Linked DNA regions of Homo sapiens. The protein of the gene in region 1 purifies or fractionates together with the protein of each later gene. This does not show direct contact. Each region holds a gene or a part of one and is shown on either strand. Other genes may lie near its edges.

Region 1 (5,223 bases):
TCCGCCCCAGAGCGGTGACCTAGGCATCCCTGTCTGCAGAAGATGAGGTGGACATGTTGAGTGATGGGTGTGGCTCAGAAGAAAAGATCTCAGTCCCTTCCTGCTATGGCGGCATAGGTGCCCCTGTGAGTCGGCAAGGTGAGAGCAGAGGCCTGAAGGGTCTGGGTCCTGGCTGCAGGAGGGGGCCCCAGAGACGGGGCAAGGCCTAGGGAGGCATGGCCCTTCCTCTCGCCTGTTTGGTCTGAGGCAGCTGCTTCCACTCCTGGCTGATTGTGGCAGGGACCTGGCTTGGCATAAAGCCACACAAGCCCCACCCTTAGCTCAGGAGGCCGAGGCCCAGCCCCAGCCCCAGCCCCAGGCCAGGCTGTGGCTATAGTTACCAGGTGTGATATCAGTGGGCTCAGGATTCAGGGTCAGAGAGGGATGAAGTCTGAGGGTAGAGCTCAGCTTCCTGCTTCTGCAGGGCTCTGGCAAGGCCCAAAGTCGCCTAGACAGTCTGCTTAGCTTGGCAGAGGGCTGTGGCAATGCTGAGCTCATGGAGGCACCTAAAGTGGGATGGGGCTAATCAGGGTGGCTTCCCAGAGTGGGGATTTAGCAGGTCTGAGAAAAGGGGAGACATGGGCAGGCAGGGATGAGCCCTGCAGAGTGCTGGGCGGGATCTGGGGATGCTGGGGATAAGGTTAGAACTTTCCACTAGCTCACTAGCTGTGGTATCTTGAGCAAGCAACTTCGCATCTCTCTGTCTCTGAGGCCTCCTCTGTGAAGTGGGCATGGGAACAGCGAGGGCAGCGTGTTGGGAGGATTCAATGAGATGCTCCTCGGTGGAGGGCCCCTGGCCAGCGCCTGTCACGCGAGGTGCTCAGTGTGGTGGCTGCCCATCAGGAGGCCAGCCATAGGGAAGGGCCTGATGATTCTCCCTCAGGCCCCTTCCATTTTACCGGAGGAGGGAATTGAGGTGGAAAAAGAGACAGGAAGAGCCTGGCCTAAGGTTCTGCGGCCATTTCACCACAAAGCCAAGATCTCCTATACCCTGGCTGGGGTCAACTTTCTTTTTTATTTTATTTTTTTTGAGACAGGGTTTTGCTCTGTCATCCAGGCTGGAGTGCAGTGGTGCGATCATGGCTCACTGCAACCTCAGCCTCCCAGGCACAATCAGTCCTCCTGCCTCAGCCTCCCAAAGTGCTGGGATTACAGGCATGAGCCACCATACCCAGCCAGGTCACTTTCAGTAGTAACCATGGCAACCAGGTTCTCTCTTTGAAAGAGCTCCAGGTGTCCTCTCCCTGCTTTCCCCTGTCATCCCCTCCTCTCCCACTCCCAGCCAATATCTGTCCCTACCAAGGTAACAGATGAGGACTTGCCTATCTTATTTTACTTCTCTGCCAGCAGTGTCCTATACTGTCCACTGCTCCTTCCTTCTCAGGACCTCCACCAAGCTCTTAGGCACCAAGCTGCTGCCCTCCCATTACCCTCTGCTTCTAGGCTCTGTCTCTTAGCTGTCATCACCACCTCCTTTTTTCTCTCAGGTTTTTTTTTTGTTTTTTTTTTTTTTGGAGACTGCCTTGCTCTGTTGCCCAGCCTGGAGTGCAGCGGTGCAAATCACTACTTACTGCAGCCTCGACCTGTCAGGCTCAAGCAGTCCTCCCACTTCAGCCTCTCAAGTAGCTGGGACTACAGACACACACCACCATGCCTGGCTAATTTTTGTATTTTTAGTAGAGACAGGGTTTCTCTATGTTGCTCAGGCTGGTCTCGAACTCCTGGTCTCAAGTGATCTGCCCGCCTCGGCCTCCCAAAGTGCTGGGATTACAGGTGCGAGCCACTGCACCCAGGCCCTCAGCTTTTCAATGTGATGTTCCTCTGGCCTGGATTCTCCTCTGTGTCCACTGTGCCCCAGTGAGCTCACCTGCACTCCATGTGTAGACAGTTCCCAAATGTTTGTCAATTAAGATGCATTTAACTATAAGTCAAAGAAAACCCTTCCTCAGCCAACAAGAACATTAAGGAAGTTTTGTTATCCCACATGCAAAGAAATCCTAAAGAGGCAGCTCCAGGGGTGTTAATTCAGTGACTCCAAGACATCATCAGGGGCTCAGGTTTCTCCATCTTTCCACTGAACCTGCCTTGACATGTCAGCCTCATGTGGTTGTAGGATGATGGCCGCGGTTCCTGCTTCATACATAGAAAGGACACTGTCTAGGGGAAGAAAAGGAAAAGGCCTGCTTCTTCCTGTAGGTTTCTCTTCTTTTCCATTTTCATACTTTTTTTTTTTTTTTTTTTTTTCTGAGACAGAGTCCCTCACTCTGTTACCCAGGCTGGAGTGCAGTGGTGCGATCTTGGCTCACTGCAACCTCCGCCTCCTGGGTTCAAGCGATTCTCGAGTAGCTGGGATTACAGGCACCTGCCACCACGCCCGGCTGATTTTTGTATTTTTAGTAGAGGCAGGGTTTCACCATGTTGGCCAGGCTGGTTTTGGACTCCTGGCCTCAAGTGATCCACCTGCCTTGGCCTCCCAAAGTGCTGGGATTACAGGCATGAGCCACCGCATGCCCGGCCCTGGCTACTGTTTTCTACAGCACCCCGCATTCTGGCTTTGTCTGGCAGTTTGCCCGTGGGGTATTTGCCTCACTCCTCTATCTGCTGTTTTGCGTACCAACTGGACACTAGATTTGGAGGTTTGATTAGATCGAGGGTGAAATTCTTGGCAATGCTTCAGGGTGATGTCACCCATATGTTACACCACTTCCTTGTATATGTTGGACAAATTACTTGATCCCTTTGTGTCTCAGTTTCCTAAAACAGTTCATTTACCTCCTGGGTGTGTTTCAAGGATTACAGGGGGTTGATCTACATGAAGTGTTTAGAACAGTTCCTATGATGCCAGTGGGAGCTGCTCTCAGTACCTTCATTTCCATTCCTGGGACCCCTATCCTCCTCCCTCCCCCCCACAACTCAGCCTCGGCTCTAGGTCTGGGCTCTAAAGACTTTGTGTGCTTGGCAGTCCCTGCATCCCATGACTCGGAGCTGATGGCCTTCATGACGAGGAAGTTGTGGGACCTGGAGCAGCAGGTGAAGGCCCAGACTGATGAGATACTGTCCAAGGTGGGGCTCCAGGTGGGAGAGGGCCAGGGGCCGGTCTGAGAGGTGGAGGGACTGGGCTGGGGAGGCCAGGAGTTGGACTAGGGTGGGTGATTCTAGAACCGTCTACCACACTGACCTGCCCAGTTCGAGGACCAGGTGTGGCCTGGGCCTGATCTAGGTCCTGTGACCTGAGCCGAGAGGCTGGGGGGTCTTCCCCTCAGCTGAGCAGGACCCAGTAGACCCTGGACTGGGTGGCACAGTGGACTGCTGAGCAGAGCGCGGCACCCTCAGATGTGGGGGTCCTCAGGTGTGGGCCGCACCTCTCCCTACCTCAGAGGAACTGCGAGGGTTATCTGAGGTCCGGGAGAAGTGGCTGTGCCAAAGGGTGGCAGGGGCTTGCTGCTCCCCAGCATCCAACATAGGCAAAGCTCTGGAGCTTCCTGTCTGGGCAGGGCTCTGGGAACCACAGGCCCTGTGCTCACCCTGTGTCTTATGCTACAGGATCAGAAGATAGCGGCCCTAGAGGACCTGGTGCAGACCCTCCGGCCACACCCAGGTAGGGGGCTCTTGGAGGGCTGACCTGCGCCCCCAGTCAGGCACCTCCCCTGGGCCCAGGGCTCCTGGAAGCTTCACAATGGCTTCTGGCATCAAGAGCATCAAGCTGACTACTTGGTGGGGTCTGGACAGCTGAGCCCACAGAGGGGCTGCAGCATATCCAGGACAGTGCTGGAGTCACTCCATGCCCTCCTACATGGGACCGAGTCCCATCTGAAGTGTGGAGGAGAGGAGGCTCTGAGGGGAGTGGCAGCCTCCTAGGGCCCATCAAGGCACCGCCACGGGGTCAGAGGAGAGGCCAGAGAGGTGGGGGGCCAAGAGGCAGTTCTTGGGGGATCCCCAGAACAGCTTCTCCAGATGACCCTCAGGGCAGAGGTGACCTGGCAGTGTCTTGCTGGGGCAGCTGAAGCCTGTCCCTGTCTTTCCCTGAAGCCGAGGCAACCCTGCAGCGGCAGGAGGAACTGGAGACGATGTGTGTGCAGCTGCAGCGGCAGGTCAGGGAGATGGAGGTGAGAGAGCTGGGCCCCGGGGGATGCGGGCAGCCAGCAGTCCCCAGCTCTTCACGGCATGTTCCTCAGGAGCTGGGTCCGAGCCCACCTCTCTGGGCCTCTCCTCGTCACATCCCACCCAGGGACCCTGCCCTGCATTTCCCTACCCAGGACTGGCCCAGACTTTAAAGAGCCAGGGAGGTGTCTGGGGCTGGGGCACACCCCTGCTTTTGGGCCCTCTGAACATGCCTCTCCCCTGCTTAGCAGACCTCATGGCTCCCACTGAACTGAATTCTACAGTCCTCGCTGTGGCCCCTGCGGGCTGGCCCCTGCATGCCTCTTCATCTTAGCTTGAACCACTCTCCCCTCCAGCCATGAGGCCCTTCCTCTGGGTCTTTGACCTCATGGAGCTGCTTCCCACCTCAGGGCCTTGGGCCGTGCTGTTGCTGTTCCCTCTGCTGAAATGTTTCCCCACCTCCCCCAGGTCAGTTCCACTGTCCTCAGTCATATCCCCCGGGCCTCCTAGGCAGGTTTTCCATCCCGAGCTTTCTCAGTGCCTCATCTCTCTTCCCTTGTGGGACTCTGAACTCCACGACGGAGGGAGCAGTTTCCTCCTGTATGTCACTGTGCACCCAGGACCTAGCACTGAATTGGTTAAGCAATTTGCTGCCTCTGGCTGTGACTTCTGCTCACTGGGGACTCAGTGACCCCAGTCACCTTTCTTTCCCCCGCTCACAGACCCATTCAAACAGCAAGGGAACTAGAGGGACACCAGGCACAGAGAAGGGTCCCAGGCACGCATGGGCCCTGCCAGAAGTTCTTCCTGGGATTCAGCCTCTCTCCCTCTCCACGCAGAATTGGTTTCCAAAGTCCCAATCTAATTTAAAACCTTGGCAGCAAACCTCCAATTGCAGCTGAGAGCCCTTCCCACTCCAAGCTGTTCATACCTGGGGTTGTCCCCGAGCAGTGGCCACAGGCGGTGAGGGCTGCACCAGAGCCTCGGGGCAGGGGCATGACTGCCCTTGCATGCGTCTCCGCCACACAGTTATCACTTCATTCATTTAACAGCCTCATCTGGAGGATCTGCTTGGGGCAGGCC
Region 2 (3,500 bases), on another chromosome or scaffold:
GGTTCTGTTGACTTTTAACTAGTAGGTTGTATTATTAATAGCAAAACATCTGAAAAGATTCTACTACATTAAAAAGGACAGTTTTTTTCTTTCTTTTTTTTTTTTTTTTTGAGACAGACTTGCTCTGTCACCCAGGCTGGAGTGCAGTGGTGTGTGAACACCATTCACTGCAGCCTTGACCTCCTGGGCTCAAGCAGTCCTCCCACCTCAGCCTCCCATGTAGCTGAGACCACAGGTATATGCAAGGACAGGGTTTTAACAGTTGCCATGGGGTAAATAATACTAAAAATAGAAAGTTTTTTTTTTTTTTTTTTTGAGACACAGTCTTGCTCTGTTGCTCAGGCTGGAGTGCAGTGATGCCATCATGGCTTACTGCAGCCTCAACCTCCTGGGCTCTGGAGATCCTCCCACCTCAGCCCCCCCAGGTAGCTGGGACTACAGGTGCGCACCACCACTCCCAGCTAATTTCTGTATTTGTTTTGTAGAGATGGGGTTTTGCCATGTTGCCTAGGCTGGTCTCAAACTCCTGGTCTCAAGCAGTCTGCCTGCCTTGGCCTCCCAGTGTGCCAGTATTACAGACATAGGCCACTGCACCTTGCCAGAAAGTGTTTTTTTTTTTTTTTTTTTTTTTTTTTTTTGAGATGGAGTCTCGCTCTATTGCCTGGGCTGGAGTGCAATGGTGCGATCTTGGCTCACTGCAACCTCCACCTCCTGGGTTCAAGCGATTCTCCTGCCTCAGCCTCTCAAGTAGCTGGGATTATAGGTGCCCACCACCACGCTTGGCTAATTTTTTGTGTTTTTAGCAGAGGCAGGGTTTCATCATGTTGGCCAGGCTGGTCTCGAACTCCTGACCTTAGGTGATCTGCCCTCCTCGGCCTCCCAAAGTGTTGGGATTATAGGTGTGAGCCACCATGCCTGGCTGAAAGTGTTTTTATATAGTCATTTATGTAGACATACAGAAGAGACTTTTCCATATTCCTTTACTATGACCAGATTGAATTTTTCATGCCAAGGACAGTGCTTAATTTGAACACACATGTTTAGCCAGTTCTCTGTGCTCTACCTTAGAGTTAGTTCATACTGCCTTTGTTATGGGAACTATTCTGGGAAATAGGAAGGAAAGCCGAGTGAAAAGGAGTAGAAACTGCTTAAGAAGGTTTGTCAGGATGCAGATTGGTAGGTTGGGGGTAAGGACAGAAAAGTCTTCATACAGCTTAACTTTAAAATTTAATTTTATTTTTTGTCTGGATTTCTACCAGGAGCTTTATTTGGGTTAACAAGTATGTTCTAAAGCCTAGGAGTATGAAGGGGATATCATCCCAGTATGTTACTGTGAGCTACTCACTTCAGCTTGCTTTCCTCCTCCTGTGACATTTGCTTCATTAGCACATTTAATCTCAGAAGGTGGGTAATTTTTGAGCAGGATCCGTTTGGAGTAGGTAAAAGCTAACATTTCTGATACTGTACACTTTATGCCAGTTTACAAACTGTGTCAGTTTTTTTTTTTTTTTTTTTTTTTTTTTTTGAGTAACAGATGGACAGTTAGAGGTTCCGAGGTATTAAATACCCAACCTAAAGTTCAGTAGCTTGTATGAGGTGGGGCCTGGAATCAAACCCAGATTTTCTCGATTCCAAATCCCAAATTCCATCTAATTAATCCTGAATGGGTTTTTTTTTTTTTTTCTTTAGACAGAGCCTTACTCTGTCACCCAGGCTGGAGTGCAGTGGCATGATCTCAGCTCGCTGCAACCTCCAAGCAATTCTCCTGCCTCAGCCTCCTGAGTAGCTGGGAATACAGGTGCATGCCACTGCACCCAGCTAATTTTTGCATTTTTAGTAGAGACAGGGTCTCACCATGTTGGCCAGGCTGATCTCGAACTCTGGCCTCAGGTGATCCACTGTCCTCAGTCTCCCATGGAGTTGGGATTACAGGTGTGAGCCACCATGCCCAGCCCAGAATGGGGTTCTTTTTTTTTTTTTTTTTTTTTGAGATGGAGTCTTGCTCTGTCACCCAGGCTGGAGTGCGGTGGCACGATCTCAGCTCACTGCAATCTCCGCCTCCTGGGTTCAAGTGATTTTCCTACCCCAGCCTCCCGAGTAGTTGAGATTACAGGTGCCCACCACCATGCCTGGCTAATTTTTGTATTTTTAGTAGAGACGGAGTTTCACCATATTGGCCAGGCTGGTCTCAAACTCCTGACCTCGGGTGATCCACCCGCCTTGGCCTCCCAAAGTGCTGGGATTACAGGTGTGAGCCACCGCACCCGGCCCTAAACAGGGTTCTTATGGCAACATAGGGGATAAAAACAATGTGCGCAGAGGGTAATAGAGAAGGGTAGAGGGTAATATAATTGCCTCTATTTATTGAATACGTACTCCATTGCAGTCTCTGCTGGTTGGTTTTGTATTATCTTTAATCCTTACAAACTCGCCACGACAGACAGTGCTGTCTTACATATGAGGAAATTAGGACTCATAAAAGTTAAGTTTTGTTTAGTCATAGAGTTAGTAATTGGCAGTCAGGACTTCCTTCTGACTCTGGCAGACTCCATAGGCTGTGCTCTTTTCATATCATACTGTTTTCACATGAAAGAATCTAGAACTCAAAACTGGTTCAGGAATACCGTGGAATAAACAGAATAGACTGGTATTGGGCAAGCCTGGGAACCTAACAACTCTTTACCATTGTTTCCAGGTTGTGAATATAAGAAGAGATATGTTTGTAATTTAGGGACTTGCCTATATCACCAAAAGATGGTAACTTTGGCATTTGAAGTGTTCAACTACAGGTTAAGTATCCTTTATTCAAAATGCTTGGGACCAGAAATGTTTCAGATTTTTTTTTGAATTTTGGAATGTTTGCATTATATACTTACTGGTTGAGCCTCCCTAATCTGAAAATCTGAAATCCAGAATAGTCTAATGAGCATTTATTTTTGTGTCATGTTGATGCTCAAGAAGTTTTGGGTTTTGGATTTCCAGATTAGGGATACTGAACCTGTATAGGAATTACAGCCTAGCTTTTCACTGAGCTCCCTGGATCCTTTTTTCTTTTCCTGCATCCTTGCCTGTCTTTTTTCTATTGTTAGTCTGTGTTGCAATTGTGCTAAGAAATTTTGAAGAAGCATTTGTAGAGATTAACAAAAAATATGTGGAAATATTCTGGGTAGATGTGATTTCTATACAAACCAGGTTTGGGGAAAAACAGTCAAAGTGATTCAGGAGATGAGGATAGACTGGAATGGTTAGAATTCCTAGAATTGCACTTTGAAGTGTGAGTAAAACAGTGACTAGCAAAGTTAGAGATGTAGGTTGGAAATGTAAATGTATTTAACAGAAGGTTAGATAATTTTATGGAAGATCCTCAGTTAATTGTTAAATCGACCCATACCATGTCATTACATGTTTATTCATGCTGTTGTGTCAAGGTGATACAGGGCTGGGTAGAGCAGGATCTGACCTAGCATATCAGTTCTTTTTTTTTCTTTTCTTTCCTTTTT
Region 3 (3,500 bases), on another chromosome or scaffold:
AAAAGCAATGTTATTCTTCTCAGCACATCACACCAGGAAGTGCATGATGTCAGTTTCTTCCATCCTCAGTGCCGTCTTCTGCCTTTCAATTCACTGTCCTCACTCTGACTTCTCTTGTTTGTTCTAGAACTTTGCTCCCCAGCTGTCTTATGGCTATGATGAGAAATCAACCGGAGGAATTTCCGTGCCTGGCCCCATGGTGAGCCAGCAGGGGGAGCATGGATGACAGAAGAGAGAATGGGTATCCAGAGGAGGTGGGCATAGGCGGCTGGTATAGACAGCTTGGGAGGTCCAGATCACCTTTGGGACCTCAGAGTCCAGAAAGGATGCAGGACGACTGGGTGGTCCCAACAGGCATGAATGACTACATCCACATGCTTTCCTACAGAGGGATCACCATGACCCCCCTTTCTTCTCCCTCTATAGGGTCCCTCTGGTCCTCGTGGTCTCCCTGGCCCCCCTGGTGCACCTGTGAGTATCCAGGACGTCTTCATATGCCTCCTTGGGCTTTGGTCTTTTGGAGGGAAGACTGGGATGAGGGCAGGAGAGATGCTCAGAGATCTCTTGGTAAGATTGGAGAAGGTTGACAGGGACTTGTCTTCTAACCCATCTTTTTCCTTCTTCTCAAGGGTCCCCAAGGCTTCCAAGGTCCCCCTGGTGAGCCTGGCGAGCCTGGAGCTTCAGTAAGCACTCTCTATACAGATTCATACTCCTTCTACAAACACACAGACTCTCCTATAGAAGAACTCCCAGGCCTGGGGTCTTCCTTACCTCTTCCCTTCAATCCCAGCCTTCCCCTTCTTTTTTTCTTATCCATATTCTAACCACCTCTTCTATCTTTTCTAGGGTCCCATGGGTCCCCGAGGTCCCCCAGGTCCCCCTGGAAAGAATGGAGATGATGTAAGTATCCCCAGCAAGAAGATACCATCTGACCCCATGGCCTCCATGGGTTGGGTCCTGCAATTTCCACTCCACCACATTTGGGAACGATACTCAGAGGAAGGAGGGCAAGTCCTCTCTGATGCACGGACTGCCCTGGAACAATGATCTTTTCGCTTAGTGAGATGATTCCATGTCCCCAACAAAGTGACTGTTCTCCTCACCCCAGCCACCTTAGAGCAATCCCCAACCCCATCCCTTTGGGGAAATTGGTGCGCAGATGGTGAAATTAAAATGCTGGTGACAGAAGTAGACAGAAATTCCTTTAGAGGCACTCAGATTTCACCAAACGAAGGTTTCACTGTAGATTTAAACTGAGCTCTAGATTCAAAGATAAGATTCTGGGCCCCCAAACCTGACCTGCAACAATCCAAAGAAGACTGAGACCTTCTCCACTTTTCCAGCCCCTAGGCGGTGGTGGGGAGGCAGAGGCATGATGGTCTTTTCTCTCCCTCTCAGGGGGAAGCTGGAAAACCTGGTCGTCCTGGTGAGCGTGGGCCTCCTGGGCCTCAGGTGAGCAGGGGGCTGTGGCTGAACCTGGGCTTCACTGCACTTGGGCTTCATTTAGGAGCTGGGTCCACAGTGATGTGTTCTAATGGCCCTTCCTTGTCTTCTTCATCTCTCTCCAGGGTGCTCGAGGATTGCCCGGAACAGCTGGCCTCCCTGGAATGAAGGGACACAGAGTGAGTCACCTTTGAGTCATTTAAGCTCCCCAAGTCCCTAGCATACCCCCATCCAGTCCCAACCTCTTCCCCAAAAGATACTGAGTTGCATCATGGTGGGTGGCAGCTACAGAAGTCCCAAGGGACAGAGAGTGGACATCCAAAAGCACCTCCCTCCATGGGAAAGCAGTCCCGATTAAACGATTGGGTGAGATCTAGAGCCAGTTGGGGTTTAGTCTAGCTCAGAAACAAAGGGATGGCGGTGATGACCTCCCAAGGCTCTTTCTCAGATCTAGGTGGATGTCAAGGCTGTTCCACCCCCTCCACAGGTTCTTACCTTCTACCTCTTTCCTGCTTTAGGGTTTCAGTGGTTTGGATGGTGCCAAGGGAGATGCTGGTCCTGCTGGTCCTAAGGTAAGAGGCTGTCTGAACATCATGGTCCTCCACATCCCCAGAGTCCCACCATGAATGAATTTCTCACTCATTATTCTCTGATCTACAGGGTGAGCCTGGCAGCCCTGGTGAAAATGGAGCTCCTGGTCAGATGGTGAGTGTGCCCAGTTCCAGAGGGCAGGGATGGGGCAGGAGGCAGGGGCAAGATGGAGGCCTGGGGGAACAAGGCTGTCTCCCATCTCATCTGACTTCTCTTGGTTTGGTTGTCAGGGCCCCCGTGGCCTGCCTGGTGAGAGAGGTCGCCCTGGAGCCCCTGGCCCTGCTGTAAGTACTCCTGGCCCCTTGGGGGATCCCTGAGCTCTGGAAGGGGCTCCCCAGGAACTCTAGGGACTGGCCAGTGCTCAGTGGACTTAACGGGGCTTCCCCTCTCTCCTGCAGGGTGCTCGTGGAAATGATGGTGCTACTGGTGCTGCCGGGCCCCCTGTGAGTGTGGCCTGTAGGCCTCAGGGCCTGGGAGTGGGGAGGGGTCTCAGTATCTGCTCTTGGGGCTGACAATGGGAGCAGGTTATGTTGGTCTGAACCCCAGGACTTCCTCTGTCCCAGGGTGTGACTTGCAGCTGCCATCTCTTCCTTCTCGCTGACATCTCCATTTCATTCACAGGGTCCCACCGGCCCCGCTGGTCCTCCTGGCTTCCCTGGTGCTGTTGGTGCTAAGGTGAGACCCCCCACTCTCCTCTAAGCATGACCCTCATGGGCCAAGGGGTTCATGTCTCCCTGTTCCCCAAACCAAAGGGACCCAGAGTGGCAAGAGAGCAGCCCGTTCACTAACACCTTTGTCCTGGGTTCTCCGTCTCTGATCTTAGAGTCCTGATCATTGCTCTCCTGTCCCTGTCTCCCCTTCCTCCTGCCATCCCGAGAGGCAAGGTTGGGTTTCCCAGGGTGGCTTCTGATATGTCCTTTCTTCTGATTCAGGGTGAAGCTGGTCCCCAAGGGCCCCGAGGCTCTGAAGGTCCCCAGGGTGTGCGTGGTGAGCCTGGCCCCCCTGGCCCTGCTGGTGCTGCTGGCCCTGCTGTAAGTGTCCCCGACTCAGTGTCCCCTTTGCCACTTTCTAACCTCAGAGTCCTTGCCTGTTGCTGACACTCCTTTCTCTGTGCCACAGGGAAACCCTGGTGCTGATGGACAGCCTGGTGCTAAAGGTGCCAATGTAAGTATCCTGCCAGGCTTCAGTCCCACTCCTGCCGCCTGCAGCCTGCCTGCCCCTTTCCCTCTGCTCCTAGGCTCACGCCCTGGCTGTCTGCCTCCCACAGGGTGCTCCTGGTATTGCTGGTGCTCCTGGCTTCCCTGGTGCCCGAGGCCCCTCTGGACCCCAGGGCCCCGGCGGCCCTCCTGGTCCCAAGGGTAACAGCGTGAGTACCAAACTCTCCCTTCTGCCCACCCCATGCACTGGCTCCAGTGCGGCTCTCATCTGGGGAGCAGGAAGACGCAGGCCAACTGAGCGCCCCCGAC
Region 4 (3,500 bases), on another chromosome or scaffold:
AAGTGATATTTGTAATTCGTAGTTTAATACACAGAAGCCACCTTTACTAAGTAGTAAATAGTATTTGGTAGCTACAGCTCTTATTTTATGCAAAAATAGTGTACAATATAAAAGTTTAAAAATTTCCTGCTGTTTTGATAGGGAGAAAATTTAGGATGAAGATAAAATATAAAGACAAACGTGATAATGTGATAAAAACTAACCCAAATATATATTTTGCTCAGATACACCTGTAAAATGTCTAGATTCTCCATTCTTTCCTTATTTAAAATAGAGTAGTTTGTTTAAGAAGTGGATTCAGTTAGAGATACTTTCACAGAAAGATGACCAAAATCTGCCTTATCTGGAAACACAAGTTAAAGTACTGTCTATATCCCTTATGAATCAACAGGCAGAGATTTTTAAACATCTGATAAAATACTTTCTGACATACATTTTCTTAGAATTACAAACACAGTTCTGCATCTGTTACATGTGCAAACAGAGACAGCCAGGCTTTGAATGCTCTAGGTAAGAGATTGTATTAACATATATTTTGTCTTTCAGCCATTCAAATTCAACTTAATTTCAGTGAACAGAGAAGAATATGGGTTGAAATGTACACTTCAGGATACAGATTTGCAGAATAAAATAAAATAGTGCAATACCAATCTCAGGATAAACACTCTTCTGTTGTTTTTAAGGAATAAGCATGAAAGCTGCTTCTCAAGGAAACTGGCACTGAAGATTTGATGAATACACTAAGCAAATACCCAGCTGATCAGGGTGTGATGCAGTAAAATTTGCATCTAAACCCAAGTGAAGCCAACAAATAAACTCTTATGGATTCTGAAAAAAAAAAAAAAATTTTGGCTCAAAGGGGCATAAATACACTTAGCATATACAGGCTTAAATACCACTGATCAAAATTGTAGAACAATTAACTCATTCATAAAGATAAACTCTTATTTATAAATTCTCTACTGCTACCATTATTTCTTTTTCTACCACACTTTGCAATCAACTTTTCTGCAAGATTAAAAAAAAAAAAATCAGGTTGTTCTTGACCAAGCCAGGAATCAAAAATAATGGTAACATATTAATAGAGCACACACAATTGGCTGTGGCTCAGACAGCAACACAACTGAATCACATTGACCTCATCAATCTAGAAGAAATTTTTCCCCAATCTTGCACAAATCAGCAAAATGTTATATCGTTACATTCTATTCTCAAGATATTTTCGCCAAGAAATCTCTATGAATGTGTTTACGTTCATAGAAACATTTGCATTCCACTGTCTAATAAATAATTGTATGAATTTTAAGATACAATTTAGTTCAGATAAAATTCAAGTTTACATAAACCTTTTGACACTAGTATATGAGATGGTTACCTTGATGACATCAACATTAGCACAATCTCATTTCCCCTCCATTTGTAGGCTTTTCAGAAATCAAACGTATTTAAGTAAGAGAATTTTCATGTTGGAAACATTAAGACTTTCATGGAATTAAAATTACAAAGAACTTCCAATGAACCACATATATGGAAGAAAGTCATCTCAGCAGATCTAACAGCTAATTTATAGAAATTCAGAGCCAGCCTGGGCAGCAGTATATTAAAAGCTATGGCCAATCACACACTTGCTATCATGCACTGAATAACAAGATATAATCTTTGAATTATATACGTACAAGATTTTTAATGACTAATCAAGTTACGTGGCCCAGCCAACAAATATTACATATTCACAATAAACATTCTGCCTTTATTAGCCTCTAATTAAATCAAGAGTGATCCATTGGCTCAGTTGTGTTAGTCATCTCAGCATCTTGACTATCCATCTCTTCAAGCTCCTCCACGGAATTTCCCCTTTGTGCTTTTGACCTTGTGGCAAAGGCTGCTCCCAGTGCATCTGCTACACAGCCATCAGTTGTTTCTGTATTCAAATTTTCAGTACCACCAGTTAAAGGAAAAGATTCAGGCAAACCAGTCTGAAGACTCCCAGACTTTGCAGAAGAACTCACAACTTCTGTTTTCCTTTGAGGAAGATCAGATGGTGACTGCTCTGTACTTTGATCCCGAAGGTGCCTGTCCATTGAAGCCTGAATAGAAGAAACCATTTCCTGCAATTTTTTTCGCTGGGCCTCAACCAAATCAGGATCAAGCTGCCTGCCGTCTCTCATTGTTACTACTCCAGGAGCTATTCGAATAAGCTCACTATTACTAGAAGAAGCTGTGAATACAGAAGGCTCTGTTTTAGTGGAACTATTACTAAAGTCTGTCCCTGTATTATGCTTTCTTACAACTGAAGTTTCCCTAGCTCTTGGATCAAGGTGTGGGTTACCAGATGCAGTTCCTAAAGAATGCCCTTTTCCCTGAAAGGCAGTTACGTTATGAAGTTGCTCAGATTTCTTTTTCACTACTCCACCACTACCTAGTTTTAATAGCCCATGTGAGGGACTTGATTCCCTACTTCTTGTAGTAGCCTCTGCTCGAACCTGACTTACAGCCTCTTTAACTAAATCTTCAACATCAGGACCAATGGGGAAATGTCCTGCAGCATCCACACACAATTCCAGTCTATCTTCAGAAGCATTATAGACAAAGGTTTTGCCAGGCAGATGTGGAAAAGTACAATGCTTGCCATCAGCCATACCTAAAAAGGGGAAAAGATATTTAACATATTAAAATCTTAAGGTATTAATAAAAGTGTAGTCAAGACAATTATAGTTAAAATAATGAATTTTAAATAACAATTTACAGATAACAGCTTTCAAAACAAAATTCATTCAGATTTATTGTATTACAAAAAAGAACCACCGCCATAGACCCTAAAGTAGTTCTCCCCAGAGAATCTTTTTTAAAAAAATTTTTTTGCTATCTTAACTAACAGCAAAGTTAAGAATGGGGCTTGAGGTCACACAGTGGCTCACACATGTAAACCCAGCACTTTGGGAGGCTAAGGCAGGTGGATCACCTGAGGTCAGGAGCTCGAGACCAGCCTGGCCAACGTGGTGAAACCCCAACTCTACTGAGAATACACAAAATTAGCTGGGCATGGCAGCAGGCGCCTGTAATCCCAGCTACTTGGGAGGCTGAGGCAGGAGACTCACTTGAACCTGGGAGGCAGAGGTTGCAGTGAGCTGAGATTGCGGCACTGCACTCCAGCCTGGACAATAAGAGTGAAACTCTATCTCAAAAAAAAAAAAAAAAAAAAGAATGGAGCTTGAGGCCAGGTGCAGTGGCTCATGCATATAATCCCAGCACTTTGGGAGGCAGACAGGTGGATCACTTGAGGTCAGGAGTTCAAGACCAGCCTGGCCAAAATGTTGAAACCCAGTCTCTACTAAAAATACAAAAATTAGCTGGGCATGGTGGTGTGTGAGCCTGTAGTCCCAGCTACTGGGGAGGCTGAGGCAGGAGAATTGCTTGAACCCAGGAGGCGGAGGTTGCAGTGAGCCAAGATGGCGCCGCTATACCACTATACTCCAACCTGGGTGACAAAGCAAGACTCC

What was found. Proteins that work in one complex are often made in the same cells at the same time.
Region 2: the proteins of UBXN11 (region 1) and ABI1 purify together in Homo sapiens (affinity purification with mass spectrometry; 3 studies listed by BioGRID and IntAct, with this or other methods). This does not show direct contact.
Region 3: the proteins of UBXN11 (region 1) and COL1A1 purify together in Homo sapiens (affinity purification with mass spectrometry; 3 studies listed by BioGRID and IntAct, with this or other methods). This does not show direct contact.
Region 4: the proteins of UBXN11 (region 1) and VCPIP1 purify together in Homo sapiens (affinity purification with mass spectrometry, with the first as the bait; one study listed by BioGRID). This does not show direct contact.

What each region holds. Positions count from the first base shown.
Region 1 is NC_000001.11:26,295,841-26,301,063, reverse strand, and holds part of UBXN11 (UBX domain-containing protein 11), read left to right. Parts: intron 1-39; coding exon 40-138; intron 139-3,001; coding exon 3,002-3,102; intron 3,103-3,582; coding exon 3,583-3,637; intron 3,638-4,068; coding exon 4,069-4,145; intron 4,146-5,223. UniProt on the Homo sapiens protein: May be involved in the reorganization of actin cytoskeleton mediated by RND1, RND2 and RND3. Promotes RHOA activation mediated by GNA12 and GNA13.
Region 2 is NC_000010.11:26,854,459-26,857,958, reverse strand, and holds part of ABI1 (abl interactor 1), read left to right. Parts: intron 1-3,500. UniProt on the Homo sapiens protein: May act in negative regulation of cell growth and transformation by interacting with nonreceptor tyrosine kinases ABL1 and/or ABL2. May play a role in regulation of EGF-induced Erk pathway activation. Involved in cytoskeletal reorganization and EGFR signaling.
Region 3 is NC_000017.11:50,195,132-50,198,631, reverse strand, and holds part of COL1A1 (collagen alpha-1(I) chain preproprotein), read left to right. Parts: intron 1-127; coding exon 128-199; intron 200-426; coding exon 427-471; intron 472-629; coding exon 630-683; intron 684-846; coding exon 847-900; intron 901-1,398; coding exon 1,399-1,452; intron 1,453-1,568; coding exon 1,569-1,622; intron 1,623-1,961; coding exon 1,962-2,015; intron 2,016-2,103; coding exon 2,104-2,148; intron 2,149-2,264; coding exon 2,265-2,318; intron 2,319-2,432; coding exon 2,433-2,477; intron 2,478-2,655; coding exon 2,656-2,709; intron 2,710-2,966; coding exon 2,967-3,065; intron 3,066-3,153; coding exon 3,154-3,198; intron 3,199-3,301; coding exon 3,302-3,400; intron 3,401-3,500. UniProt on the Homo sapiens protein: Type I collagen is a member of group I collagen (fibrillar forming collagen).
Region 4 is NC_000008.11:66,632,732-66,636,231, forward strand, and holds part of VCPIP1 (deubiquitinating protein VCPIP1), read right to left. Parts: intron 2,642-3,500; coding exon 1,770-2,641; 3' UTR 1-1,769. UniProt on the Homo sapiens protein: Deubiquitinating enzyme involved in DNA repair and reassembly of the Golgi apparatus and the endoplasmic reticulum following mitosis. Necessary for VCP-mediated reassembly of Golgi stacks after mitosis.